Homo sapiens: one gene and its partners. The protein of the gene in region 2 interacts with the protein of the main gene of each other region in a pairwise test. Each region holds a gene or a part of one and is shown on either strand. Other genes may lie near its edges. The genes, in order: RNF138, CFAP206, ZBTB32, SAMD3, TMCC2, KLHL3 and GSE1.

Region 1 (4,407 bases), on a different chromosome or scaffold from region 2:
GCTTTTATAAAATTGAGCACATTGGGCCAGGCGCGGTGGCTCACACCTGTAATCGCAGCAGTTTGGGAGGCTGAGGTGGGCGGATCACTTGAGCTCAGGAGTTCAAGACCAGCCTGGCTAACATGGCGAAACCCCGTCTCTACTAAAAATACAAAAATTAGCCGGTCATGGTGGCTCACGCCTGTAATCCCAGCTACTTGGGAGGCTGAGGCAGAAAAATTGCTCGAACCCAGGAGGCAGAGGTTGCAGTGAGCCAAGATTGCACCACTGCACTCCAGCCTGGGCGACAGATTGAGACTCCAGCTCAAAAACTAACTAACTAACTAAATAAATAAAATTGACCACATTGATCAAATTCTGTAGCACACAGGTGACGGTCCCTGTATGGAATACTTACTCTTCCCTCAGGATTCCTCTGATATTCCATGTGACACATGACTCTCTGGCATATGGTAAAAGTGGAGATGTTAAGTTGTTCTGTATATTAAATGTTAGTGAAGCCTGGTTTCTTTCCTTTCTGGAAATAAAATACAAACATAATGAACATTTACATATTTTCTTAAATTACTGCACTTTGGAGGGCATAACCTTATACCATGTCCTAGTTTGAAGTAAAAAAGTTCACAAATTCTTGAGTCTACCGTAGCATTTAAAACCTTACTAGTCTAGGTAAAGGTAGAGGAATGGGATTTAAGGTAATTCTGCAAAATTCTCTATACTTCTGTAACTGTGCATAAGTTAATTTTAAAGAACATAAATAAGAATCTAGTAAGCAGTCAATTTATTTAAAAGTAATTAATATTGTAATTATTTCATAGTTCAGAACCATTTGAAGTTCAAATTTTGTTTTTTCAAGGACCCAATAGGAAAAAGGTGTATTGAAGTTCAGACTTTTAAAACAAATTCAGACTAGTCTTCTTCATTAATGGTTCAAGATAATGAACCTTTAGTGTGTTTTCATTACTTTGAGGTATTAACTTTTTCCCCTGTGCTTCTTAAGCAATAGGAGTGAAACATCCACATCTGATAACACAGAAACTTACCAAGAGAATACAAGGTAAGCTTTTGAAAAATCCTGCCACTTTAGCAAGTAATATTATATTTATCACTTATCAAATAGCTTTTTAAATTAAACTTTTTTTTTTTTTTTTTGAGACGGAGTCTCACTTTGTTTTCCCAGGCTGGAGTGCAGTGGTGCGATCTTGGCTCACTGCAACCTGCGCCTCTCAGGTTCAAGTGATTCTCCTGCCTCAGCCTCCCAAGTATCTGGTATTACAGGTGCCTGCCACCACGCCCGGCTAATTTTTGTATTTTTAGTAGAAACAGGGTTTCACCATGTTGGCCAGGCTGGTCTCGAACTCCTGACCTCAGATAATCCACCTGCCTTGGCCTCCCAAAGTGCTGGGATTACAGGCATGAGCCACTGCGCCTGGCCATAAATTAAACTTAAAAAAAAAAAAAAAATCAGTTACATCATTAGGCATAGTGTTTGAAGTTAGCAGTTTAGAAATAGAAAATGCAGTTACTGCTTTTAAGAATCACATTAGGTTAGAAGAGTTTAGTTATTCTCTTTCACTGTGGTCAGGTTTCTTCCACACACGATTCAGGTAAAGTTGTCTGTGTTGAACTGTCCCTTCCTGAAATTCAGAAGTATTAAAACTCAGTGATGCTTGATCCTCAGAATGTTTTCGAGTATTTCATTCTCATGATCAGTGCTTTTGTTTTTTCTTTTCCTTTGAATTTTGGATGTTGGATTCCTAGGGCCTGGTATTTATTAGAGATACGATATTGATGGAAGTCTTTTAGAAGTTTTAAGTTCCTAGATAAAAGGTTTGCAAAATGTGGAATACTACAGAATATTAAAAATTTTCAAGGGACATACAGTGACAGCTATTGGCATCAGAAAACAACTACAATTAAGTTTGGACCTAACTACATAATATATGGAGTCAGCTAGGTTTTTGTTTTTGTTTTTGTTTTGGCCTAGAGGTGCCATGAAAAAATTTATTGAGGACACTAAGAGTACTGTAAACTGAGATTGGGAACCTCTGTAATGCATCATTTCCTGAATACATATGTTCAAAATGAGAGAATCTTTGAATAGTCTAATAATTATAACTTTTTTAAAAAATGTATAGTGATTCCTCAAAAAATAGGAGAGCGTTATTTTTGTGTTATTCTGAATTAAGTATGTTTCACTTAAAATTGTTTTATAGTTCTTCTGGTCATCCTACTTTTAAGTGTCCCCTGTGTCAAGAATCAAATTTTACCAGACAGCGTTTACTGGATCACTGTAACAGTAATCACCTATTTCAGATAGTTCCTGTGGTAAGTACATACGTTTGAGACAGTCTTCTGCTTAGAATAAAACATGCTGTTCTATTTATTTCACTTCATGTATGCAAGAGAAAGTAGTTGATTTATATTTGGTTGGGGCATTATCAGTAAGGTAGATTTTTGTCAACAAAGGATTGATGACTGTGAAGCAAAATGAGATATTTAAAATTGCAGTAACTCTCATTATAAAAAGGGAGATGCATAGTGTGAGGTAATATAGCACAGTCTGGAGAAGAGTGAAGTAATGAAAGATGAACCGGGAACTCATTCCTGCGCAGTAGCACAACCTGTCTATTGAGGCCTCAGTTACTTGCTCTGTAGATGGCAGACAAGTAGATCTAGTCAGGTAGATTGCTGTAGGTGAAAATACCTGTAAGTAAGAATAAAGTCAGTAGGTATTTTTATTGTTTTCTTGCAGCATATAGTATGTGAATGCATAAAGCAAGGAAGGAAAAGACTTAGACTTTGTATTTGATGCCTACATATTTTTTGACATTTTGAGGGTATGTAAGAAAATGGTGAGAGCTTTTTGATAATGAGGGAGATAGAGCAGAATTCAGGATTCCAACATATAATGATCCTAGAAGTGTTTCATAGGTAAGTTATTTCAGCTGTGAATGGAACAGGAGAAACTGAGCTGGGAGAGAGATTTCCCTTTCAGCTGAACATTTTGATATATAAATAATTGTCTTCAGAAAGGAGAATAGGAAGGAAAATGTTATCAATAAGAACTGTAGATATTTCTAAGCTGTTTTAGTGAGTATGCTAGGAAAAGTTGTGAAAGAATGTGCTTCAGGACCGGGCACGGTGGCTCATGCCTGTAATTTAGCACTTTGGGAGGCCGAGAGGGGAGGATTGCTTGAGCCCAGGAGTTCGAGACTAGCCTGGGCAACATAGTGAGACCCTGTCTATTTAAAAATAAAGAAAATAAAAAGAATATGCTTCAATAACCATTGAGGATGACCTTAAGCTCTCACATACCACCTAAGAAGGTGTACTACCTACTTTGCTTATTAGAATGGGTTCAGTTATGCTTAAATAGACAAATACAGTGCCAAAGATGTTCCAGGAAATCTCGCTCATATTTAAGATTTTACTTAGTTTTATATTGGATTACCAAATTTTTATTCATTTCTGCATAATATTCGATATATCATAAACTTTGGCTAGAGTTTAATTACTGAAGGTTTTTTGTGTGTTATTTCAGTTATTTATCCATTCAGTTTTTAAGATGTACTTCATTTAAACGTAAGGATATGGCTGGGTGTGGTGGCACATGCCTTTAATCCCAGCACTTTGGGAGGCCAAGGCGGGAGGATTGCTTGAGCTCAGGAATTTGAGACCCAGCCTGGACAACAGTGAGACTGTGTCTCTAGTTTTAAGAAAAGAAAAGAAAAACTAAGGATACAATTTAAAGTAAATTTTCCAGTTTACTTCATTTTTATTTTACTTACAAATGAAATAAAACTAATAATAATTATATGGTTATTGTATGGATCAAATGAGATAATATATTGGATATGTTGCAGGCAGCCAGTTAGTGATAACTGTCATTACAGTTGGTATTATTAAAAGCTAGATGTGGTTTTTCTGTTGAAACATTTGTGTAATAAGAGATTTAAGGAATAGAATGTCTAAGATTTCTCACTGTGTTAGATTAATGTCATTTATCTAAGGTAATTGATTGGGAAATGATCTAGTCATGGAACTTGGCCTTTAAAAATGCTTCTCACGTAGATATTTTTGGTAACATATCCCTGTGTTATTTTAATACTGTCAATTGTATAATATTTCATTGTTTTTATTATTTTTTGTTTAAAACAATCTGTTTCTTATAGACATGTCCTATTTGTGTGTCTCTTCCTTGGGGAGATCCTAGCCAGATTACCAGAAATTTCGTTAGTCATCTAAATCAGAGACATCAATTTGATTATGGAGAATTTGTGGTAAGTGAATTCTTCAAGATTAAGAAAGTACTGTTTAAATATTAAAGTTAAAATAACTTTTTTGTAATCGACTTAAATTTTGTGGCAAGCTGTTGTATCTTACTGGATGGATTTAGAGCAAGTT
Region 2 (4,407 bases):
TTGTGAAAACATTTTTAAAAAGTTTATAGAGCATGTGAGTTCTAGATTTATAGAGACATTTAGAAGACCTTGATGAGTTTTGGAAACATCAATAATGTTCTCCTGTGTGGGAATTTTTTGACGTGTATTTTTGTTTGCCGTTGTTAAAAATTACTCATTGCTGTGGTTTCTCTGTTCTTGCTTTTGGTTAACAATACACAATAAAAATACAATAAAATATGCCATAGTTTCCCAATTGAAAACCTAGCCATTGCTTTCAACTTATTTCCCCATATAACTTTTCTAGCACCATATTCAAGTTTGATGTTTGTTGCTTCCTTTTTTCAACCTCTAACAAGGGTACTGATGAGTTCAGTAATAAGAAGAATAGTTGGAAAACCAACCCCAACGTAATCAAGAGGTAGTTGTTTAAAAAATGGAAACATATTAAGCTAATAATATGAAATAAAATTGCTTAATGGATTCTTTCCTAGTTAATGGACTCGTTCCTACTTTTTTCTAGGTGAAAGCTGTTGTCCTGGATCCAAGTAATGGCTTTAACATGGATAGAACCCTCATGAAAAGTGATGTGCAGAATCTTGTTAAGGTGATTACCCAACAGTCCTCAAATTTGCAATTACTTATTCTCAGTTGTAAATACAATATTTGTATTAGTCATTATTGCCTTCAGCTGCATGAAACAAAAGCCCACAAAATAGTAGTATACACGAGATATTTTTCTCATAACACAAAATCTGGAGAGACATAGACCATTCTTCCTGGCTTCCTGGGGCACACCATCCTTGCAATATGGTCATCTGGTGGTCAAAAGATAGCTACCCTGCCTCTAGGCAGAAAGAAGGGGGAAAGACAAAGGGCAAAATATGTGTGCCAATTGGGTCTATCACCTTCTATCCAGAAAATAATAATTTTCCCAGAATCCCTCCCATCTACTTAACATTTATTGACCAGAATGATATTGTAAGTGACCCAGGGACATTTCACTTCTTTTTTCTTTCTTAGATGAATAAATCCTTGCCCCAATCCAAATTGAGGCTCTGTTAGTAAGGAAGGAAGGGCAGGGAAATTGGGCAGGTAGCAGCATCTGCTACAGTATTTTAGTGAAACCTTGTTACTAATGTCTTACATTGCAAACATTAACTAGTTCGTCATATACTGTGAAGTTAAATAGAACTAAATTAATTTGCATTTCTCTAATGCTGAGTGATGTTGAGCATTTTTTTCATGCTTTTTGGCGATTTGTATGTCTTCTTTTGAAAAATATCTATTCATGGCCTTTGCCCACTTTATAATGGGGTTATTTGTTGTTGTCGAGTTGTTTGAGTTCCTCGTAGATCCTGAATATTAGTCCTTTGTCAGATGCATAGTTTGTACATATTTTCTCCCATTCTGCAGGCTGTCTTTTCACTCTGTTGATTATTCATTTTGATGTGTAGAAGCTTTTTAGTTTATTTAAATCCAATTTGTCTATTTCTGTTGCATTTACTTTTAAGTCATGAATTCTTTGCGTAGGCCAATGCCCAGCCCCCTAGGTTTTTTTCTGTTATTTTTATAGTTTCAGGTCTTACATTTAAGTCTTTAATCAATCTTGAGTTGTTAATTTTTGTATATGGTGAGACATTGGGATGGGTTTCATTCTTCTGCATATGGTAATCCAATTTTCCCAGCACCATTTATTGAATAGGATGTCATTTCTCCAGTGTATGTTTCTGTTGACTTTGTCAAAGATCACCTGACTGCAGGTATGTGGCTTTGTGTCTGGATTTTCTATTCTGACAATGAGATACAATCTTACACCAGTTAGAATATCTTTAAAAAGTAAAAACATAACAGATATTGGTGAGGATGCAGAGAAAAGATGGTATAAAGCTTGTTCTTAGCAATAGGGGAAGTGATTGTGGCAGTCAGAAATTTTATTGGAAAGCCGTGGAAGAGAATCCAGGAGGGGCAGAAAATAAGTTGTTCTCCTTGTCATGACCCAAGAAGAGTTTTCCATTCCCCCCAATTCCCCAACTCAACTAAGTTGGAAAGAATCAAGCCAATATACTTTTAGTACGACAGGTACATAAACTAACAACATATGTTATATTCAAGTGACAATTTTTTTCTCAACTAAAAATCATGTGGATGAGCTATTTTTTTAAGTGTGCATTTTAGAACAGTACTTCTGTATGTGGAGGGATCCAGGTGCACAGGCTTCTGCAAAGACATAGTGTCCAATCCTCAGTCTTGCATTCTCCCCTCCCTCCTCCCAGGAAAGCAGGGCTGGTGCTCAGGGAGATGGGTTGAGAGTGATGCTGCCAAGTGCCTGCCAGCTGCAGTATATTCAGCCTACAGAGTGAGCAGTGAAGGAAGTGGGGGAGGGAGGTGACCAGTAGAGATGAGAGAAGGAAAGAAAAACTGAGGTTGATATTCAATATAAAGAGGCAAGGCAGAGAAGGGGAATGAGCCATCTATGTGGGGGCTCATAGGAGAAAACAGACCAGGAGAAGAAATATCAAGGGTAGAACCAGAGAAATTTTGTGAAGAGAGGGGGGTGGTTGCAGCAGCTTTTTAATTTTAATTTAATTTAATTTAATTATATTTTATTTTTTGAGACAGAGTCTCGCTCTGTCCCCCAAGCTGGGGTGCGGTGGCATGATCTTGGCTCATTGCCATGTCCACCTCCCGGGTTCTCAAGCGATTCTCCTGTCTCAGCCTCCCGAGTAGCTGGGACTACAGGTGTGTGCCACCATGCCTGGCTAATTGTTGTATTTTTAGTAGAGACGGGTTTCACCATGTTGACCAGGCTGGTCTCGAACTCCTGACATCGGGTGATCTGCCCACCTCTGCCTCCCAAAATGCTGGGATTACGGGTGTGAGCCACTGCACCAGCTGCAGCAGCTTTTTATAAAATAAAATGAGGAGTGTTGTTCAAGGCACAAATAAATAGTAATGAGGAACTCTAGAAGAGTTTTAGACTGGAATATAAGCTTTGTGGAACATTTACCCACATTTAGACTGCTCAAACTAACCAAAACATCAGGTTTCTTGCCTTCAACTAGACTACTAGCCACCTGGCATGATGATTATTGGTTAACTCAAGGGAAATAACTTATTACTTAACAAATGTTATTGGTAGTAAAGATATGGAATCAACCTAAGTGTCCATCAACAGATGATTGGATAAAGAAAATGTATACACACATACACACAATGGAGTTTTATTGAGCCATAAAAAATAATGAAATCATGTCTTGTGGCAACATGGATGGAACTGGAGGCTACTATCTTAAGTGAAATAACTCAGAAAGTAAAATACCACATGTTCTCACTTATAAGTGGGAGCTCAATAATATGTACCCAGGGACATAGAGAGTGGAACAGTAGACATTGAAGACTTGGGAGGGTGAGAGGGGAGCGAGGGATAAGAAATCACTTAATGGGTACAATGTCCACTATTCAGGTGTTAGCTACCCTAAAAGCCCAGGCTTCACCACTACACGCAATATATCCATGTAACAAAATGACACTTGTACCCCCTAAATCTATAAAAATAAAAAAAGTTATTGGTTAAATAAACTATAAAGCCTGAAGTCCTCAAGGAGAAAAAAAAAATAAAAGGGGTTATTGGTGAATCAATATCAGGAACCACTGCTTTTCCCTTTATTTTTGAAAATAACTTTAGGAAATACTTGACTGTCTCAAAAACTATAACTAGAAGTATTCATGGGACATTCTTTTCTAGCTTTGTATGACTCGGCTATTGGATACTAAAAATCCATCCCTGGACACTATTAAGATGCAAGTCTACTTCGATATGAATTATACGAATCGAGGTAATGTATACTACCTATTTTTATACTTAAAAAATTTCATACTGTGTTTCAGCTAAGAAGGGCTTCATTTGGTTGACAATGAATTTAATTGTTTAATCAATTTAACAATTTAATTTTTGGCAATCAACTTTGAGGAATACAACGTTAGAAATGCTAAATGAAAAAAAACCATTGGCCTTTGTGAGTGTTAAAAGTGAATTCCAATTATTGTGCTCATAATTATTGTTTCCAGTGGCACTAATACATAATAATTAGGAATTCAGCCCATTGAAGTTAAAAGTTTTTAATTTATAGATTTTCTTGTTCCTGGTTTATGTTATTATCTCATTATAATTACCTAAATTATGTAACTATTCAAAAATGAACGATGGGGAGTTTAAGTTTAGAAAACGTTTCAATATGTAAATTTTTTTTGAGACAGAGTCTTGCTCTGTCACCCAGGCAGGAGTGCAGTGGCACGATCCACAGATCACTGCAACCTCTGACTCCCATGTTGAAGCAATTCTCCCACCTCAGCCACCCGAGTAGCTGGGACTATAGGTGTGTGCCACCATGCCCAGCTAATTTTTGTATTCTTAGTAGAGACGGG
Region 3 (4,993 bases), on a different chromosome or scaffold from region 2:
AGAAAATGGTAGACACTTATACCACTTGGCATATGAATGCATGACAAGAGATTGACAGATTACTCTGAGCCTCATGGCTGGAGAGGTTAACTATCGTCTAGCTTATTCTTTACCCTCCCCTCCTCATAATATACATGCATACCATTAATTGTTCTTTTTTTTTTTTTTTTTTTTTAGAGACACAGTCTTGCTCTGTCACCCAGCCTGGAGTGCAGTGGCACAATCATGGCTCACTGCAGTCTTGACATCCTGGGCTCAAGTCATCCCCCTATCTCAGCCTCCTGAGTAGCTGGGATTACAGGCATGTGCCATCATGCTTGGTGGCTGTCTGCCGAGCTGGGATTAACTGCACACTTCATGTGCCAGCACCCCGGGCCCCCACCACACCATAGAGGGAATGGCCAATTGAGCTGCCCCAATATTAACTGGTTTCGGGGTTAGACTTCCTTGAAGTCCACTCATAAGCCACTCCTTGCACCCTCACCCCTGGTTAAAGAACTCTGGGTGTACTGAAGGCACTCCGAAAGCATAAATACCACTGAACAGCTGAATGAAACTAGGTATCAACACCCTGCCCCATGAGTATAAAAAAGATCATCAGTAAAGACAACCTGGGTGATTTCCTTTATGTTATTTACTTATTTATTTTTGAGACAGAGTTTTGCCCTTGTTGCCCAGGCTGGAGTGCAGTGGCGCGATCTCGGCTCACTGCAACCTCTGCCTCCTGGGTTCAAGTGATTCTCCTACCTCAGGCTCCTAAGTAGCTGGGATTACAGGCATCTACCATGCCCGGCTAATTTTTTGCATTTTTAGTAGAGATGGGGTTTCACCACGTTGGCCAGGCTGGTCTTGAACTCCTGACCTCAGGTGATCCACCTGCCTCGGCCTCCCAAAGTGCTAGGATTACAGGTGTGAGCCACCACGCCCTGCCAAAAACCTGGGTGATTTCCTAAAGAGGAGAATATCTCACACACCTCTTCCTGTGCTCCACTACGATGTTCATCCTCCCCATGCACCTGCCCCGCACCTACAGCCTGATATCTTCATCTTCTAGGAATTATCAGAACAGGCATGGGAAAGAGTGGGACAGGGAGAATGAAAAGCTCCAGACATGACCCAATTCCAGTTTTTTTTTTTTTTTTGAGATGGAGTTTCGCTCTTGTTGCCCAGGCTGGAGTGCAATGGCACGATCTCGGCTCACCGCAACCTCCGCCTCCCAGGTACAAGCGATTCTCCTGCCTCAGCCTCCCTAGTAGCTGGGATTACAGGCATGTGCCACCACGCCCAGCTAATTTTGTATTTTTAGTAGAGATGGGGTTTCTCCATGTTGGTCATGCTGGTCTCAAACTTCTGACCTCAGGTAATCCGCCCGCCTTGGCCTCTCAAAGTGCTGGGATTATAGATGTGAGCCCCCACGCCTGGCCCTGCTTTTTTTTTTTTTTAATTAATTTTTTTTTTTTGAGACAGAGCATTGCTCTGTTGCCCAGGCTGGAGTGCAGTGGTGCGATCTCTGCTCACTGCAACCTCCGCCTCGTGGGTTCAAGGGATTCTCCTGCCTCAGACTCCTGAGTAGCTGGGATTACAGGCACCTGCCACCACACCTGGCTAATTTTTGTATTTTTAGTAGAGACAGGGTTTCACCATGTTGGTCAGGCTGGTCTCGAGCTCCTGACCTGGTGATCCACCCACCTCAGCCTCCCAAAGTGCTGGGATTACAGGTGTGAGCCACCACGCCTGGCCACCCAATCCCAGTTCTGTACAGAGCCACCACAAGGCAATAATACTTCATCCAGCGCAAACAGCTCGGCTGGGATTCAGAATCCTTCTCCCTAGAATCTCCAGAGGATTACTGGCCTAACCTCTTGGCCACATCATCCAACCTGGACTCCATACTGGGAAATCTGCCAAGAACATCTCAACCTGGAGTCCAGAACATTCACTCCCAGCCCAGGCTGGCTCCAAAGACCCCAGGAAACCTTCATGTGCACACTAGTTTCATCTCTTGGCCAGTGACTTCCTACATAACTTTTTTTTTCTTTTCATTTTTTTTCTTGAGACAGGGTCTCATTCTGTCGCCCAGGCTGGAGTGCAATGGCGTGATCTCAGCTCACTGCAACGTTCATCTCCTGAGTTCAATGAGTTCAAGCGATTCTCCTGCCTCAGCTTTCTGAGTAGCTGGGATTACGGACGTGTGCCACCACGCCCAGGTAATTTTTTTTAGAAACCCCGTAGAGACAGGGTTTCTCCATGTTGGCCAGGCTGGTCTCAAACTCCTGACCTCAAATGATCCACCTGCCTCAGCCTCCCAAAGTGCTGGGATTACAGGCGTGAGCCACCGCGCCCAGCCCCTGCATAACCTTTGGAGATCCACAGGCCTCTCCTTTCAGTCACCGGATCCAGGCTCAGTCCAGAGACCCTTGATAAGCTCTCATTGTCCGGAGGCCATACCTCATGCAGAGTTAAGGACCTCCAACTTCCCCACAACACCCTTCCTACTCAGGCTGGCCTCGGGGGCCGTGGACCAACTCAGAGAGCAAGCTGGCTTAGCCTCTGCCAAACCTAGGCCTAAAGGTGGCCAGGAGGCTGCATTTCCAGCCTCTCAAAGGCAGAGGAAAGCCCCAAGGGCTAAAGCCCTCAACCCGCACTTCCCAATCATCAACGAGGTCCAGTCAAGCCCCCATACCCCAGATTTGCCTGGGCCGGGCCCAAGCCCAAGAAAGTAAAGTAAGAAAAACTATGGCACTCACCGGCCCAGACCCTGTTCCTCCTTCCCTTTCAGCCTCACATACACCCAGGACGGCTTAAGGCCGAGTGACCGTTAAAAGTGGGGAATGGAGCGAGGCCAGGGACGCAACGCTCCCGCACGTGGTCACCCCTGGATCCTGAGGCGGACGCTGATTGGCTGCAGCGCGGGCCGCATTCTCCCGCTCAGGCCAGCTGAGCACGCTGGGCAGCCTGGGAGGCACCTAGGACAGCGCCACTCCCGCGCGTCTGCCTCGGACCCGCAGCTGATTGGCTGTGAAGGGGCAGAGCCTTGAGTCTCATTGGTCCATAGGCTTCAGGCCTCTTAGGCTGAGATTTCATTGATTTCCAGCCGGGCCCCAGCGTTGATCTGCTGTGGAGTCTGCCTTTTCCCACTCTCTCCACGAAGAGACTGGACCCTGATTCTCCTTCACCTGAACAGCCCTGGAGGCTCCCTCAGCAAGTGCTCAGGAGTACTACTGTCCTTTTTTTTTTTTTTTTTTTTGAGACAGAGTCTCGCTCTGTCGCCCAGGCTGGAGTGCAGTGGCGCGATCTCTGCTCACTGCAAGCTCCGACTCCCGGGCTCACACCATTCTCCTGCCTTAGCCTCCCAAGTAGCTGGGACTACAGGCGCCCGCCATCACGCCCGGCTAATTTTTTGTACATTTAGTAGAGATGGGGTTTCACCATGTTAGCCAGGATGGTCTCGATCTCCTGACCTCGTGATCCACTCGCCTCGGCCTCCCAAAGTGCTGGGATTACAGGCGTGAGCCACCACGCCCGGCTTTTTAAAAAATTATTATTTCATTTTTATTTTATGAACGGGGTCTCCCTCTGTTGCCGGTGCTGGGGTGCAATGGTGCAATCATAGCTCACTGCAGCCTCGAACTCCTGGGCTCAAGCAATCCTTCCACCTGGGCCTCCCAAAATTCTGGAACTACAGCCGTGAGACACCGTGCCTGACCTGCCTTTCTTGCTTCTATTTTGCCACCCTAAGTAGCTCCCATTTGCAAACCCTGTCACCTTTCTCTCAACCCTTTACCATCTGTGAGGTGTGTAGGGGGTGTGTAGGCTGCCGCCACACCTGATTGGCTGGGAGGCCCGTAAGAGCAAGCCAAGGCCAGGCACGGTGGCTCATGCCCGTAATCCCAGGGCTTTGAGAGGTCCAGGTGGTAGTAGGATCGCTTGAGCCCAGGAGGTCGAGGCTGCAGTGAGCTATGATCACACCACTGCACTGCAGCCTGGGCGACACAGTGAGGCCCTGTCTCTAATAAATAAATAAAAATAAAATAAAAGAGCCAGCCAGGCAGGGCACGGTGGCTCACGCCTGAAAACCCAGCACTTTGGGAGGCCGAGGAGGGCGGATCACCTGGGGTCAGGAGTTCGAGATCAGCATGACCAACATGGTGAAACCCCGTCTCTACTAAAAATACAAAAATTAGCTGAGCGTGGTGGCGGGCGCCTGTAATTCCAGCTACTCGGCAGGCTGAGGCAGGGGAATCGCTTGAACCCCGGGAGGCGGAGATTGCAGGGAGCCTATATCGCGCCACTGCACTCCAGCCTGGGAGACAGAGCGAGACGGCGTCTCAAAAAAAAAAAGAGCCAGCCAGGCTTCGGTGCCTGTGAACAGCTCCCTTTTCTCTCTTGTCCCACTCCACCACGATTGCTGGCACAGCTCACTCTGCCTCGCCTGGAAGCCTGGAAGTGTACAGGGACAGGAAAGACACAAGAGGGGGGCAGTGCCTTGCCCCGTGATTGGCAGCGTGACACTTGCACTTCCAATTCCCACTGCCACCTCGACTGTATGCTCAGCCAGGAGTAACTGCGCGCGGACGTGTCAGCACTCCCACCTCCAACCATACCGCAGAGGGAACGGCCGATTGCGCTGCCCCAACATTAACTGGCCCGGGGGTTAGACTCCCTCCAGCAGGGTTTCCCCCTGGGCAGGGCTTCGGGGCTAACAAGCTGCGAGCTCGCCCCTCGCCAGTCTCCCGAGGTGCTTGTCTGCGGGGCTTCTGGCCCGGCCCCCGCGGCGGTTGCACCGCTGATTGGCTGGCTCCGCTCCTTTCTAAGTGGCTTAGCCTGGGATTCGTTCTCAAGCATAGCCAATGAGACGCCAGGGCGCCTCAAGCAGGCGGGCATGACTCCACCGCTGTCGCTTCTGATTGGCCCTAAGGCTCGTCTTCGCTTTAGATTGACCAGAGAGCAGCGGGGCGGGAGCTTAGTTGAGCAGTTTCAGGCTGCGATGCGA
Region 4 (3,975 bases), about 43 Mb from region 2:
CTGGTGCTGTAACTGAGTCTTCAACAGGCCACTCCACCAGTCTGGCAAGCCAGCTGCTTCAGGACAGGACGGTGGGGAACAGGATAAGACCAGTAAATTCCATGTATCATCACCATAGGGAATCTCAGCAGAGAAATGAAATACACGCACACACACACGCGCGCACACACACACACATGAACCAAATTGAAATTCAGAGCTGAAAAGAACAGTTATCTGAAATGAAAACATCACCATGTGCGTAGGCTTAAAAGCATATTGGAAAATGAAAAGAAAGGAGCTGTGAATCTGCAGATAGATTAATAGAAATTATCCAGTCTGAGTAACAGAAAGAAAAAGGATTAAGATGATTAATTTGTAGGACATAATCTGGGGTTGTGAAAAGGGGGGCTTTCTTTTTGTTCCAACTTTTAGGTTCAGCAGGGGATACGTCGTGCAGGTTTGTTATATAAGTAGATTGCATGTCGTGGGGGTTTGGTGTACAGGTTATTTCATCACCCAGGTAGCGGGCATAATACCCGATAGGTAGTTTTTCGATCCTCACCTTCCACCCACCCTCTAATCTCAAGTGGACTCCGGGGTCTATTGTTCCCTTCTTTGTGTCCATGTGTACTCAGTGGTTAGCTCCCACTTATAAGAAAGAACATGCAGTATCTGGTTTTCTAGTCCTGCATTAATTTGCTTAGAACAATGGCCTCCAGCTACACCTATGTTGCTGCAAAGGACATGATTTCATTCTTTTTTATGGCTATGTAGTATTCCATGGTGTACATGTACATTTTCTTTATCCAGTCTGCTATTGATGGGCATCTAGGTGGATTCCATGTTATTGCTATTGTGAATAGTGCTGCAATGAATATATGTGTGCATGCGTCTTTCTTTATATTCCTTTGGGTATATACCCAGTAATGGGATTGTTGGGTCAAATGGTAGCTCTGTTTTAAGTTCTTTGAGAAATCTCCAAACGGCTTTCCACAGTGGCTGAACTAATTTACATTCCCACTAGCAGTGTATAAGTGTTGGAGGCTTTCCTGTGGCTGACCATTCACAGCTGGGAGCTTGGCTACACAGATGTTAGTGCTCATAAGTAAATACACTGAGATATAATGGGAGCCAGGAATCTCACTGTTGAAGAGAGTTAGAAGCTTGGGAAGGGGAAGGTTAGGAAAAGCCCTGTGGTATTGGTTTGGAATTGAAAGTATCAATGTGAATTCATGGTTTTAGTCTTTATGTATGGCTATTTAATATTTACATATATAGTTATTGGTGTTTCTGGATCAACGGGTGCCTTTGTTTATGTAAATTCAAACATTTCCTAGATTTCTTCTATGAGAAAGTCTAAAGCAATAACATCTCCGTAGCAAGTTGCACACCAGGGCTGAAATCTTGGTTTTTTTTGGTTGGGTTTTTTTTGAGAAAGTCTCTCTGTTGTCCAGGCTGGAGTGTCATGATCATGGCTCACTGCAGCCTTGGCCTCCCAGGGCTCAGGTGATCCTTCTACCTCAGCCTCCTGAGTATCTGGGACTACAGGCATGTGCCACCATACCTGGCAAATTTTTGTATTTTTTGTAGAGACAGATTTCGCCATGTTGCTCAGGCTGGTCTCAAACTCCTGGGCTCAAATGATCCTTCTGCCCTGGCCTCCCAAAGTGCTAGGATTATAGGCATGAGCCACAGTGCCTGGCCTGAAATCTTAGTTTTTAAAGCCATTCTTCATGAAAAGGAATTAGGGTTCGTGGAGAAATAGCTCACTACAGGGTTGGGGGCAAAACAAAAATGAAAACAACAACAACAAACCAAGACGAGTCAAGACGAGTCTGAAATACTGTGTAATGCCAGAAATGAAGGAAGTGCTTGCACACTAATAAGGACATGCCAAGAGGGCACGGCAGTCTGTTTGAAGCGACTCCTACTGGCCAAGTCTGGGCAATTCGAGCAATTCTATAAATAATGAAAGGATCAGATTTGTAACCGTTTGGGTAAAATGGGAATTGATTAACCTGTAGTGATAGAAATAAGTAAGTAAATATATGTGGAAGAAAAGAAACTATCTTAAAATAGAAAGCCAACTAATCCATGTAGAAAGAAAGGAATTAGAAAAGTCACCATTTGGCAACTATTGTAGTAGTACTTGATTCAGGCAAGAATCATTAATGGATGTGGAATCTGATGGATCAAAGTTATACAAGGAACAAGATATTGACATAAACTCAAGGTATCTCCTCATAAAATACAACATATATTAATTTTACGTGGAAAAACCTGGTGAATTCCATTTCTAATCAAGTAATAAAAATTATCTCCAATACTGGGACCAGTTACCATTTTGTGCTTCCGGACACAGTGAGAAATGCTAATATTCTTGCCAGAAATGCATAAATCTTGAAATATCATAAAACTTCCAAGGAGAAATGTTCTACAAAGTAACTGGCCTCCACTTTTCAGAAACCGTCAAGGAAACTAACAAGTTGTTTCAGACTGGAGACTAGAGAGGCGTGGTATCTAAATCTCATATGGGATCCTGGATTAGATCCTGGGCCTGTTAAGAATATGACTGGAACAACTGGCAAATTTGAATGGAATGTGTAGTAGATTTTCCTGAATTTGGGTGCTCTTGTACTTAGGAAATACACAATGAGGTATTAAGGAATAGTGGGGCATTGTATCTACAGCTCATTTTCAACTGGATCAGAAATTGGGGGAAGCTGCACAGAGGGCACTTGTAAGTTCTGTTTACTATTTCTGCAACTTTAATGCAAACTTGAAATTATTTCAAAACATAAAAAGTCAGAAAAGAAATTCTTAGGCTATGAGCCCAGAACAGTGGCGTATTCACCTCCTTCATCCTTCCCTTCACATCTTCCTGCTGAGAAAACGGTTTTCTAACGGTATTAATCTAGATTAGTGGTCCACTGTGGGTTGCCTGGTAACAAAGCCACTATGCCTTATGCATTCCAGCTTTCTGACAACTTAACTTTCAGACCTAATCTCTAGGCAATTTATGATCTACCAAAACATTCAAGGAACAATGAGGCCCAGTGGGTAGTATGTGATTGTTCTTTATAGTTTTAGGAAAAGCAATGACTAAATTAATTCACTGGAGTGTGGGTGGCTAATAATCTGATAATGCCACTGTCAAAAACAGGAGGGGGAGTGGTGGTGGAATCCTCTGAGGGGGAAGAGTTCAGGCAGTGGTAGGATGGGGTAGTTTGAGGAAAGGGACTTCCATAAAGTAAACTGGTTTTGCTTTGAACTTGTAGTCAAATCTGCACATACATTGTTTCTTTTTCTTTCTTTTCTTTTGAGACAGGGTCTCACTACGTTGCCCAGGCTGGAGTGCAGTGGCACAGTCTCGGTTCACTGCAGTCTCGATCTCCCCGGGCTAAGGCAATCTTCCCACCTCAGCCTCCTGAGTAGCTGAGACTATACACGTATGTTGCCATGCCCAGCTAATTTTTGTGTTTTGTAGAGACAGGGTTTTTCTGTGTTGCCCAGGCTGGTCTCAAACTCCTGGGCTCAAGTGATCCTCCTGCCCTGGCCTCCCAAAATGCTGGGATTATAATCATGAGCCACCGTGCCCAGCCATATATCGTTTTTCACTGTTTACCTCTGTCTACTCTTAGTTTCTAAAGCACTCTCCTTTACCTAAATTTAGGATACTATGGTTAAGTATTTGTCAGGGCTTGCTTCCTAAAATCTAACAGTTTTGTTCTTTGCTGCTTGTTGAACAAGACATAACAATGTAGTCACCTAAAGAAATGTAAGATCTTAGAACCTTAGCTGGGTAACCCAAATAGCCTGCATATGCATACACCCTTTGAATCCTCATTTAGTTGAGTCTGCATCCAAAGTTTTAGTTCTGTAGGTTTAGAAATTTGCCATGCCCATTATTTATCATTTCAAATTCATTTCAGGCTTTCATTCTTTTCTCCTCCCTCATCCTAAGGCTTTAATTCTCCACTAAAACTTCTAAAA
Region 5 (4,407 bases), on a different chromosome or scaffold from region 2:
AGGTAGGAGGAAGGGCTATGCAGTCAGCTGCCAGGTGGGATAATTAGCTATAGATTAGTGTGACTTTAAGCTTTCCTGGGATTTGTTGAGAACACACGTACCTGTAAAAATTAGAAACCACTTTTGGTCATTTTTAACCAGATGGTGCCAATGACACTGTACCCCAAGGCATTTTAGTTTTGTATTCATGCAGCTGTGTTTGCAGATTTTGGAGCAAACTTCCCCTTTGGGGGACCCACACCCAGGGAGAAAGACGGATGAAGCCCAACTGTTCAGAAACCACAGCCTTCTCAGGAAGGATCTTTCAGAAGCCATCTAGTCCTCCCTTTTTTCCTGAAAGGACAGTGCCACCCAAGGAGATGGGGCTCTTCCTGCCCTTTCAGATAGTTCCAGGGGAGGGACAGCCAACTCCCCTCACTTCCTTCCCCGGGGCACCTCACCCTGGGAGGCTCTCCTTTCTGACTACCTTATGGCCAGTTCTGGGGACGGCACTTCTTGCTTCGGTCTTACAGATCATGAAAGCCCTGTTTGTTTGCCACCTCTAACTCTGAAGCATCTCAGCTCTCTAATGCATGGCTTCATTTGGCCACCAAAATGGTTTCTGGCAGCCAGGGAAAAGCAAAAGTCAATGTGGAAAAGCAAGTGACATTTTAGGAGCTGGAACCTGTTAGTCAGAGCAGGTGGTGCTTTCTGCTGCGTTGGCGGCTAAGTTCCCTTAAGCTAGTCACCATGGTTTTCCTCACTTCTGAAACTTGTAGCTGGTTATGTGTATGTGCTGAGTTTTTTTTTTTTAAAACACTTACTGTGTTATGTCAAAACTCCTTAACCATCTCCTCCCTGACACCCACATGCAGAAGCGGCCCAGCCCTTGCGTCACTTTGCTGTTCCCGCCTCGCACCTTATCAGTGAGGAAAAACCCCTTCATTTGGAGTAATCTCCTCTCTCTGCACCTTGTTCTTTGACTTCCTTTTTGTTATTTCCCTCCTGCCTGCCTCAGACTTTAATAGATTCCTCGGTCTGCTGGGACAAAGGTCCTGGGGTCTCCTGGTCACTTTCCCTAGGTTTCCTTCAGCTGCAGGACAGCTCAGGGAGGTGGGAAGTAAAGACTTTATAGTTGAGGGTCTTGTCCCATAACATGGGATGGGCAGGTCACAACAGCAGTTCAGGGGACCTAACAACCCTTGACCCAGGCATTTTTGTTTGGCGCCTGCCTCTGATACTATTCTGGGACACATGCAAATACCCTATCTACTTTAAATCTTAAGTCTTGAAATCAGTGTATGGGCCCATGAAGGTAAATTCAATTAGAAGTCGGGGGTTTCTCTGTGTGGCTTGGATGAGCCACTTAGCTATGCTGTGCCTCCGTTTCTTCATCTGCAAAATAGACACTGATGCTGTGACATCTCACATTCCTAGCTCCTGAGATTAGGCTAGTGTCAGATTATAATGACAGTATAAATCGGAACGCACTTTGCAAAATGCTGTTGTATAAATTTTAAAAGTAAATTGACCAAGGATTTTAGGCTCCAAGGCAATATGGCAGACATCGGTGGCCACCGTAGCTCTCCCCAGCACCTCCACCAGCCTCCCGGGGATAGGGGAGAGGAAATGCCTCAGAACTCTAGGACCTCTGCTGAAGTCTTTAGAAGGGAAACTCTTTCTGCCTGAGTGGATCCTCAGTGTTGGAGAAGCCAGTTTAGGAATGGGGGGAGAAGAGGAAGGGACCTGGAATAGAACGCTAGAAAGACAATTCGTATTATGGAATGTGACGATTTGGCAGAGGCAGCTGGGCAAATGCCAGAGCCAGCTGGCCCCATCACAGTGTCTGGAGGGAGGTCTCACATCAGCTTGGGCCTGGGGAAGGGGGAGGTGTCCTGGCAGGTCCCTGGTCTGAAGGCTGCAGGATCTGGCCTGTTCCAAGTCCATGGCAGAGTTGACATCTTGGTTCTCCCCAGCACAGATTCAGGTGAGCCTTGTGACCCTGCCTCAAGCTGGCCCCCAGGGGATGGTAACTCCTGTGGGAAAAGCTGGCATTGTGTAACTTAAGATCTCGAGGGCTGCCCCAGAATTCAGTTCTTGAGAAGGAATCATGGTAGCCTTAATTTCCTCTTCTCTAAATGGAGATGTTTCCGTTGTTGCTTTTGTTACTATTTAGGAGAATCAATGGGATAATGCAGGATACAAATCTCCTTTGAAATGAAAAACCGTTAGTTCGTGATGAGTTGTGATGATGTAATTTATCTGGTCTGTAAAATGGGTGATGTAAGGGCCTCATCTACTTTAAGGATTCTGGGGATACTCAAATGAGGTGAAAAATGAAAATCCTAAAATTTTACACAAATACATAATAGTACAGTTATTGTATCCAGCTGTAAGCGCAGCCATCTGCACAAACTCAAGGCTGAGTTGTAAAGTAACCTAAGAGTGGGGTCAGCTCATTTAGAGGATGTCAGGTTGCTTTTTCTTGGTTTCTATATGGTCTAGATTTTCTGCTCTGTAAGTTTGTTTCTAGGGAAAAAAAAAAAGAAAATCCAGTCTGTGTAATTTTTTGGAACATTTTTTAAATGACTGAGGCAGCCTGGTAAGATTGTGGGTTGTTCCTCACAGGAAATCCTGCTATGGCTCATTGAGTCCCAAATGGCTGGGCCCTGAGTTTTCCTCTAAGGAGCTGCAGAATGTGAGGTGTCTCCTGGTCCTCCAAGTCTCACCCCTCCTTCCAACAGCTCCAAAGCTCTCATAGAGGGCTCAACCTGGCCGGATAAGCCGTCCCCTGACAGAAGCAGCTGTCTGGAATTATACCACAGTTGCTCGCCCTGGCAGGCCATCCAGCTGCCCCTCTGTGAGCAGTCTTGCCGGAAGAGCAGCTGGAGAATCTCAGCAACAGGGCTAAGAGGAAAGGCTGTGGCCTGGGCGGCACCGGGTTGCAGTGCCTCTATGCTTTGGATCTAAGGGGAAAGACACTCATTTGGATAGCTTGTTCTGATGTGTATGCTAAAGAATTGGTCACATTACTATGTCACAAGGTTTGCTCATAGAAGTAAAGTTTATTTCATTGCCAACCATATCAGGAATGAAATTGGTTGCAAATAACAGAAAATCATACTAGAGTTGTGTAGACAAAGATGGGTTTATTTCATGCAACAAGAATCCCAGGATAGATGTTCACAACTGGTTTGGTGGCTCCATAGACCTTCAAGTTCCCAGGCCTGTCCCTTGGGCTCCACCATCTGTGTGCAGACCCTCATCGTCAACCATGTCATCTTGTGGTTGCAGAATGGCCACTGCATCTCCAGGCACTACGTTCCCATTCCAGATGGGAAGATTTGGGAAGGGCCAGTGCCTTTATCAGGAAAGCAAAAGTGCTCCCAGAAGCTCTCACCTTGCTTTTCGTTGGCCCAAACTGTGTCATGTGGCTACTCCTAGCTGCAAGGGGAGTCTGATGAAGCAGGAATTTTTAGCAAGGTGAGTTAAGTCCTTGCAGTTTGGTTGGTAAGAAAGAAAAATAGATATTGGGTAGGCAATTAGCAGTGTCTGCTACAACAGTATAACTTGATTGTATGACCCTGATTTTACTGGGGGAATGTTGGAATTAGGCAACTTTGGAAATCGATGCTTGGTGGCCTGAAAGAACTAGTACAGCTTGAAGGGTCGTCTAACTTGGAAGGAGGGAAGGACTGGGGGTGGGGATCAATCTAGAGGGATACAACCCCATGAGCCAAGTGCTACCTGTGTATGCCATTAAGCCCCAGACTGAAGCCCTGAGAGCATCATTCCTAGAAACTCTGAACCTTCATTTTGATTAGGAATGTCCCGTGGAAAACCGTGGGGGCACACTTCTTTCGGAATGAAAGGATGGGTCTGGGTTGCCACCTTTTCGCAAACTGACCCTTTATGCACGACGGGCCATCCACAGAGATCTTCCAGGTTCAGATGGCTGCATTAGCTATGCCAGTCTACCAAGGACAGACCCTTCACCTTCACCCTCCTACTGACTAGGCAATCAAGAGCTTTCCACTCACCAGGGTTCTTCATCTCTCCCCCTTAAGAAAATCCAGCAGCTGTCAGAGGGCTCCATGTTTGGCCACGGTCTGAAGCACCTGTTCCACAGCCGCCGTCGGTCTCGGGAAAGGGAGCACCAGACGTCTCAGGATTCCCAGCAGCATCAGCAGCAGCAGGGTATGTCCGACCATGACTCCCCAGATGAGAAGGAGCGCTCTCCGGAGATGCATCGCGTCTCCTACGCCATGTCCCTGCACGACCTGCCCGCCCGGCCCACCGCCTTCAACCGCGTGCTGCAGCAGATCCGCTCCCGGCCCTCCATCAAGCGGGGCGCCAGCCTGCACAGCAGCAGTGGGGGCGGCAGCAGCGGGAGCAGCAGCCGGCGCACCAAGAGTAGCTCCCTGGAGC
Region 6 (4,407 bases), on a different chromosome or scaffold from region 2:
ATGGAGGTAAGGTGCTTTAACATACCCTCAACTTTCAGGAAATGTTAACTCGATCTGTACCTTACTAATGCATGTGTTCTACGTGTCCATGTGGGCTATTATAGCGATTCAGCCTAATTCTATGAACTGAGGTGGCACTGCTGAAAGAGGATGAAGAGTATGGGGCTCTCTGGTAACCTGTGTGTAAATGGTACTTTGTGATAGCAGGACTGCACCACCAAGTCCTGAATCCTGCTGGCTGGACATCTTCAAGAGTCAGGTTCTTCATTAATCCAGAAGTAGAAATCTAAGTTTGATCATTTTGGTCTTGAACTTTAGGATTGGGATACTTACTAGATCTGCAGTTTGACCAGAGTGCCAGGGGCTCAGAAATCCTATCTATATAGGGTCCCATTGCTGTCCAGAGTTGGAGAAGCAGAGTCATGCCAATGACCTCATGAGAACCTAAAATACAATAGTCAACATGTCATCAGTTTATTGATTTGCAGTAAAATATTACTGGCAAGATATTCCTGAGGGCCTGCAACCACATTCTACCTCTCTGAAGGACAACCACGGGGGAGGCCAAACTGGTCAAAAGGCTGCAGAGTAAACTAGGGACTGAGTTATGGCATTGGAGTATTTACAGACTTCAAACTCCACCATGAGGATCTGACCTGAGGCTGAACCAGCTGACGATATCTGATGATTAAATCACTTTCCTAGACAGAGTGTGATGGGTTGGACCGAGGGCTTTCTTCTCTGTCTGATTCTTAGTTTTTGGTTATTCCTTTCTAAATGACACTTTCTTTGTTGAGAGTTTTTAATGCATTCAGCACAGCTTTGCCCTGGCTCACAGTTGTTTTGCCTTCATTGAGTGGTTTTGCCTCTTTATTCCATCTCATCTCTAGCTTGAACATAATGTGCTTGGGCCTCTTGTATGTGGCCAGTATCAGCTCATGACTTCTGAATTTTATTTGCATCTCTTGGAGACCTTTAGAGGTGAAACAGATCATAACCTTTAACAGCATTTCTCAGACTCCACTTTCCTTCCCTCTACATTCTCGCACACCCAAGATGTTCTGGAACTCCTCATTTGTTTTTTCTTTTCTTTTTTTTTTTTTTAACTTTTATTTTAGGTTCAGGGGTACACGTGCTGGTTTGTTATATAGGTAAACTTGTGTCACAGAGGTTTGTTGTACAGATTAGTACCTGTCATCACCCAGGTAGCCAATAGTTATTTTTTCTGCTCCTCTTCCTCCACCCACCCTCCATCCTCAAGTAGGCCCTAGTGTCTGTTGTTCCCTTCTTTGTGTCCGTGAGTTCTCATCACTTGGAGCTCCTCATTTGTTGGATTCCCCCAAACATTGCTGCACAATCAGCCTGCTTGGAGACTCTTCTATCCCCTGCCTTTCTAGCATGTTTTTTAGTATCCTTTCCTTTCCATTCACTGCCTCCATTTTCCTCAGCAATAGAAAGAGTCTAAGAACTGACACAGTAAGCAGTAACCTATCTCACTTTCTTCCCTCTTCTCTAGTTGTTGCTGGCTTTCTCTCACTCCCATCCTCCTGATTCTGTGTCATCAATGCAGGGGACTGGGCTGCCTAAGAAAGTACTCCTCTCTGAACGTGAGGTGGAGGGGTCATGGAGAGAAAGTTGAGGGGGACAAAGCCATCAGTATTTTAATGAAGGGGAGTGAGGAAAGCTACAGTGGTCAGTAGTTAAACCTAATTTACTTATCTACCTATTAATTTACTCAGTAATCATTCATTGAGCACCTGTCATGTGACAGAAGCTAAGAATTCAGAGGCAACTAAGATAACTGTCTTGGTTCTCATGGAGAGCTCACAATCTAGAGGGGGCAGCAGTGTGCTGGAGTCAGCACTCACCCACTTGGAAAAGCTGTTTGTTAAATTTTCAGGAATTTTCGGAGCCAGTTATTAAATATAGCCATTATTAACAAATTATGTAACTTATAAATTATATTAAAAATGAATGTAATAAATACCCCAAACTCATCACTTTCTAATTATTTTTTACTGTAATCTTCTAGGGCTTTGAGGTTATGTCTATTGTGTCTTGGTGTAGAAATACTATACAGTGATATGATGGTGTGCTGTTGCACATCTCTTCCCAAATCTCATGTTCGGTGGCATCATGTTGGTAGCTTAAAATCTGCCATGGTGGGAGTATTTACAGTCTGGAAATTGGCAAATGTTACAAATCAGGGCTCCTTTCCTCCCAATCAACTGTTAAACATTTACCAGCACACACTGTGTGGGGCAGACAGATAAGTAAGAGGTAATTAGAATACAATACAGAAGGAAGCACAGTACTGTGGGAATACAGAACTGGGGAAACTAACCTAGTTTCCCACTAGATTTTAACTAATCTAGTGAGTAGTGGAGAATGAGAGGGAAGGCTTCAGGGAAGAGGCTTGAAGGCTGGTAGGAACTAGCTAGACACGGGAGAATGAGTGGGGAATAAGATAGAACAGTTTTCTAGTGAGACAAAACTTCACAAGGCAGAGAGCCTAGTGTATTTTGGCTATTGCAAGTATTTTAGTATTACGGTAATAAGAAGTCTTCAGGGCAACGATGGGATTAAGGGCCAGGCTAGGTCCCTGAGATTTATTCTGAATGCAGTGAGGAATCAGTGAGGCTTCATGTAGAACATGCCTGGAACACATTGACATTTTGGAAAAGTCCCTCTGGAGTCTGGGAGGAGGTTATTATAATAATCCTGGCAAGAGACAATGATGACCTGGAATGGGGTTGTAATGGTAGCGAAAGTGAGAAGGAAATGGGGTGCAGGGATATTAATGGACATAGGATTGATTCGATTTATGGCTGTATGTGAGGAGTGAGAGAGAGAGAGAGGGAGGAAGATATCAAGGATAACACCCCAGTTTTTGGCTTGGATAGGTGATTGGGTGGTTGGTTATGCCTCTGAGATAGAGAATACAGAAAGAGTAGCAGGCTTAAGGGAGGGTGGGGAACATAAATTTTGAATAAGTATGAATTACCTGTGTAAAATCTAATTAGGGGAGTCAAATAAGACATTGGATATGTGGATCTGTAATTTAGAGGATAGAGGAGGGCAAGAAAGAAGGCTTTGGAAGGTGCTGTGCTAAAAGAGGGCCTAATTTTTAGAGCTTATATATTTTTATTTATAACTTTTATAATTACTATTTTATGTATATTTTATTTATAATTTAACTCTGAAGGCCAACTCTGCTTTCATTAAAAAATAAAAGTGTTGGTCAGACTATCCCCTTCTACTCTACCATCTAACGCTTGTAAAGACAAGTGAAGGGTCTTCAGGTAGAGTTCAGATGACAAATATGTCATGAGGACCTACTGTGGGCATGACCTCATGCTGGGCAGGCTAAGCTATACAGAGTCCTCAGACACATGTTCCTTGCCCTCTGGGTATGTTGAATCTAGTGTGAGGCAGGTAGGTGGTTGGATTTGTACCCTGAAAAAGTAATCAGGCACAAGGCAGAATTCTATGTGCCAGTTGAGTTACAGGCCAGAAATACTACAGGAATTCAGAGAAGGAAGAGCTCACTTAGAACTGATGTATCCCGAGGGTTTCATGGAGGAGGTAAAGTTTAATTGGTCCTCAAAGAACAGGTATTTAGATTATGATACAGGGAAAGAGAAGGGAAATATAGGTGTCTGCAGTGAACGGTTCATCTGCTTGGCACATAATAGGTACTTAGTAAATATTTGAGTAAGTGAGAGAGGTAAGGCTGGCATTTAGGTTCAGTCCAGGTCAAGGAGGTCCTTGAATACTAGTCAAGAATCATGACTTTATCCTGTAGACTGATGATTTTTCAGCTTTTTAGCTATAGAGTCCTTTGAAAGGAAATTTTATGTGGACCCTCAACATATAGAACAAATGGAGGCAGAGGGCTGTGACTGAAGCTTCAGCTCATAAACCTCACAGCCCCGAAGAGACCTGTGTGCAGTGAGGATCTGAAAGTCATGGTCAGATGACATTTTAGAAGGATCAGTTTGGCGATGGTGTGCAGGAAATACTTGGAGGGAGAGTATCTAGAGTGGGGAACAGCAGGTGGGAGGCCACTGTAATAGTCTAAGTCAGGGGAAAAGAGAAGCTGAAAGCCCAGAAAAGAAGGGCCAACTATGTCTATCCTTATGGCTATGAAGCTTGACTGTCTCACATGTATGTCTTCCTGAATGGGGTCAGTGGGTATCTGTGAGTGTGAGATAAGTCAGAACCAATTTGCAACACCCTTTCTGTGGGCTGTTGAACCATCCACTGCAGTGGGTTCATCATGGCACCAGTAGTGGTTCATATAAGCAAGTTTACTAGTAACAGGCCAGTGTGGAAATTAATTAAAGTATTGAGCCAGATATCTGGTGCTTTGACAAAGTTGACTAGATTCATGTGTTCTGATTCTGC
Region 7 (3,500 bases), on a different chromosome or scaffold from region 2:
CACCACGTGGTGCACGGGCCGCTGGAGGCTGCAGGCGGGGATAGTGGGCAAGGTGGGGACAGGTGAGTGCACACCTGCTCCTGCATGGGGGGACGGCTAAACTCCCTGCATCACCCCTGGCGCTCAGTCGGCACCCAGACTCCTGGCACCCCGAACGAGGACGGGGCTTAAGCAGCGGGGGGAGCGAGCTGCCACTGCCACCTCAGTGTGAAGGGGCACAGACAGGGCTGCAATCCCCAGGGCTCAGCGGCCGACAACCATCTAGCAGGCACAGCCTCATCTGTGCAGACCGCAGGCTGCCTGGGGACCCAGACCCTGAGCACTGTGTCCCCACCTGGCCACCTCACCGAAGTCCCCGCCGACCAACTTACTTGAGTGGCGGGAAGCGGGAATCCTGCACAACTGAGCTGGGGGAGAGGCCGAAGGGGTAGGGGGTGCTGAGCAGGTGCGAGGGGATGGCTGGTCCCCCTGCCTTCTCCTGAGGGAGCGGGGGCTCCACAATGAGGCGTTCCCGACCTCCACTGCTGCTCCTGGAGCCGGCATCCTGCGGGAGGAGAGCGTCCAGTCAGGGCAGGAGCCTGGTATAGGCCACTGACCACAGGACACAGCCAGGTCTCCTGACTCACGGGAAGGCGCTAGATTTAGTTCATGTTCTAGAAACATCCTTTCCCTAAGGCTTTCTACGCAAAACATGGTGCATGTGGTGTGGGAAGCAGAACCGTAAGAAAGGGGATGTGGCTGCGACAGGTCTGGGGTGAAGTGCGTCTCGGGATCCGTCTCCCTCCCTGGGCCTCCTCAGTCCAGCAAAAGAACTAGAACCCCCCAGAAACACAATGTGTGCAGGTGAAGGATGCAGGGTGGCAGGGGCTCCTGCCTCCACCCCTCCTGGTGTGGACATCCGAAGGTCACACCAGACACACACCCGGGGAAGCAGACACCGTTGGCACCCAGCACGCCGTGAAGCGAGTGCCACGATGTAGCCAAGACGTCAACTGCGCCGACAGCTGCCCACCTGGCCGCAGATGTCCTGGCCCTGGTGCCCACGTGGAGGGCAGGGGCAAAGGAAGCTGGCACTGCCCCTGGGCCGAAGGTGCTGGTCTGCCCCCAACCACCTCCTGGGGTGGCCCTGGCCCTGGAGCCCACCAGAACAGGCAGCAGCTGGGCCCTGACTGGCCAGCTGGGGTACCGGCCTTCACACACACGGTGGGGCAGGGAAGGCAACAGCTCGCCTGTCCCAGGCTCCTGGACACAGTGGACCTGGGTGTAGCTGGGAAGGTGGTCCAGAGGACTCAGATGAGGGGTCTTCTCCAGGCACAAAGCAGGAGGAGGCAGTGGCCCAAAGCCCACCTTCCGGGCTGAGGTCCCTGCCAAGTTCAAGGATAGGCCGTGCCACCCCTAGCCACGCAGAGGCTGCCCCGCACACACGCAGGGTCCAGCCCGGAGAAACCAGAGCATGAAAAGGCCTTGCTTGTTCCTGTTATTCGTGTGACTAAGTGGGAGGAGGAGGAGGAGGGGGTAGGAGGAGGAGGAGGGGGTAGGAGGAGGAGGAGGAGGAGGAGGGGGTAGGAGGAGGAGGAGGAGGAGGGGGGAGGAGGAGGAGGAGGGGGAGGGGGGAGGAGGGGGGAGGAGGGGGGCGGAGGGAGCCTCAGGGCGGCCCAGATGGGGGCTGTGCTCTGGACTCTGGATGGCTGCCAACCCAGGCGTCACTCTGTCACTGGGGCAGCCGTTCTCAGCCCCAGCATCTTCCCCATGTGGGGACAGCACTGCCCAGGCCTACCCTGACCTGGGGGTGTCTGAGAGCCATGGCCACGCTGGCCCCTCTGAGCTTCCCAGGGATGCAGAGCCACGGGAACCCGGCCCTTCCTCACGTTCCATCTGGCCATGTCAGGTAACGACTGCTGATCAGCGGGCAGTGCTCCTGAAGAGCACCAGCCCCGCTCTGCCTCCCTGAGCCACGAAATGCCAAACACCCAAAAAACAAGGAGGCCATGGCCGTCTCCCCACAAGATCAGCAGGAATGATGGCCCAGGGGCTCTGAGACCTGCCCCACCGTGGAGAAGCATCTGTCTCCCAGGGGCCGTGCCTGTGTCCCTGACCCGCCAGCCCCTCTTCCTGGGCCCATCCATCTTCATAGCGGCAGACGGTGACCCGGCAGCAGCACATGGCACCCGCGCAGAGGCAGTGCAGGCAGCCCGGGCCGGCGCCTCCCCTCTCTCCACCCTCCAGGAGACAGTCAGCGAGGATTAACTGGAGGAGCCGCCGCCGCCGCCGCCGCCTGGAATCTTCAATGAGAGGCAGCATCTGCTCCCTTCCCGCGGGCTGAGCCCCGGCCCCCCTTCTCTGTAGGGTCCTCCTGGGTTCACGACTTCTGACCTGCCTCTCCAGGGTGCTGGTCTCGAGGGTGGGAGGTACACATGGGCACTGACGCCCTGCGTGGGGCCGGGAACTTCCTATTGAGGAGCCAGCGCCTGGCCTTGGGGTCTCCAGCCGGTGTCAGCAACCGGGGTAGTGGGGGAGTGGCCGAGGGGCCAACCTGACCTTGGGAGACCTGGCCATCCTGTCGTGCCTCGTGCACACATCAATGGCATGTGCCCGTCACGGCACCTGCTCAGAGGACAGCAGAGTTGATGGCACGGCTATGAACGGGCATGCGGGGGACTCACAGGGCAGCAGAGTTGATGGCACAGCTGTGCACGGGCATGTGGGGGACGCACCAGCAGGGTGGGGGCCCGGACATGGCAGGTGTGTTGCCAGGCTGGCCTGCCTACCCCAGCCCCGTGAGGCTATTTCCAGGCTGGGCTTCTAGATCCTGCCTCACGCCCCTACCCTGCCTGGCATAGGGCCAAACATCTGAGGAACGGAGCACGAGGAAGGACACACCCTGTTCCTAGGGTCTGGGATGGACTTAACAAGACGGAGTGGCCCCTGGCCCCCCAGCATCCAAGTAGCACCCCAATGAACACCAGGCCTAAAGCTAGTGGGTCTCTGGATGCCCAGAACAGGGGCCTCGCCTGCTCAGGCACCCGGGGTACCTGGACTCCCCCTCCCAGGCTGGTGGGGAGGCCTCCAGGGCAGGAGGGAGACGACAGCCAGGGGCTTCAATCATCACCCAGCCTTGGGTGGCCAGAGTCAGAAGAGGGCTGGAGGACAGACCTCGACCTGAGGACAGCACCCAGGGTCAAACTACCAACAGCCCAGGCCTGCCGCCCTCCTCCGCATGCTGCCCGCGCCGTGGGCCGGGTCAAACGGCAAAGCACAGGGCCCCAGCCGCCCCGCCACAAGGAGGGGCCTGTCCCCAGCCCAGACACGGCCCTTGAACCCCTTCTCCCCTCAGCCGAGGACAAAGCCCTGCTCGCAGGCCAGATGGCACCTTCCTGGCCTGGCTGAGGACAAACAGGGAGTCCGGGGGGCTGGGGGGCAGCCAGCAGGCGGGGCAGGGGCCCGGCGAGCCAGACCCACATGTCTGTGGCTTCCGTCTGGCTGGCGCCCGGCCAACCCTG

The links.
Region 1: the proteins of CFAP206 (region 2) and RNF138 interact in a two-hybrid assay, tested with the Homo sapiens proteins (one large-scale study listed by BioGRID and IntAct).
Region 3: the proteins of CFAP206 (region 2) and ZBTB32 interact in a two-hybrid assay, tested with the Homo sapiens proteins (one large-scale study listed by BioGRID and IntAct).
Region 4: the proteins of CFAP206 (region 2) and SAMD3 interact in binary tests that used the Homo sapiens proteins (3 or more experiments, as listed by UniProt).
Region 5: the proteins of CFAP206 (region 2) and TMCC2 interact in a two-hybrid assay, tested with the Homo sapiens proteins (one large-scale study listed by BioGRID).
Region 6: the proteins of CFAP206 (region 2) and KLHL3 interact in a two-hybrid assay, tested with the Homo sapiens proteins (one large-scale study listed by BioGRID).
Region 7: the proteins of CFAP206 (region 2) and GSE1 interact in binary tests that used the Homo sapiens proteins (3 or more experiments, as listed by UniProt).

What each region holds. Positions count from the first base shown.
Region 1 is NC_000018.10:32,122,518-32,126,924, forward strand, and holds part of RNF138 (E3 ubiquitin-protein ligase RNF138), read left to right. Parts: intron 1-1,000; coding exon 1,001-1,057; intron 1,058-2,216; coding exon 2,217-2,328; intron 2,329-4,175; coding exon 4,176-4,283; intron 4,284-4,407. UniProt on the Homo sapiens protein: E3 ubiquitin-protein ligase involved in DNA damage response by promoting DNA resection and homologous recombination.
Region 2 is NC_000006.12:87,410,083-87,414,489, forward strand, and holds part of CFAP206 (cilia- and flagella-associated protein 206), read left to right. Parts: intron 1-502; coding exon 503-586; intron 587-3,727; coding exon 3,728-3,818; intron 3,819-4,407. UniProt on the Homo sapiens protein: Essential for sperm motility and is involved in the regulation of the beating frequency of motile cilia on the epithelial cells of the respiratory tract. Required for the establishment of radial spokes in sperm flagella.
Region 3 is NC_000019.10:35,702,378-35,707,370, reverse strand, and holds the start of ZBTB32 (zinc finger and BTB domain-containing protein 32), read right to left. Parts: upstream 2,814-4,993; 5' UTR 2,748-2,813; intron 1-2,747. UniProt on the Homo sapiens protein: DNA-binding protein that binds to the to a 5'-TGTACAGTGT-3' core sequence. May function as a transcriptional transactivator and transcriptional repressor. Probably exerts its repressor effect by preventing GATA3 from binding to DNA.
Region 4 is NC_000006.12:130,146,302-130,150,276, reverse strand, and holds part of SAMD3 (sterile alpha motif domain-containing protein 3), read left to right. Parts: intron 1-3,975.
Region 5 is NC_000001.11:205,237,459-205,241,865, forward strand, and holds part of TMCC2 (transmembrane and coiled-coil domains protein 2), read left to right. Parts: intron 1-3,273; exon of another isoform or gene 3,274-3,462; intron 3,463-4,046; coding exon 4,047-4,407.
Region 6 is NC_000005.10:137,725,678-137,730,084, reverse strand, and holds part of KLHL3 (kelch-like protein 3), read left to right. Parts: intron 1-4,407. UniProt on the Homo sapiens protein: Substrate-specific adapter of a BCR (BTB-CUL3-RBX1) E3 ubiquitin ligase complex that acts as a regulator of ion transport in the distal nephron.
Region 7 is NC_000016.10:85,651,322-85,654,821, reverse strand, and holds part of GSE1 (genetic suppressor element 1), read right to left. Parts: intron 545-3,500; coding exon 372-544; intron 29-371; coding exon 1-28.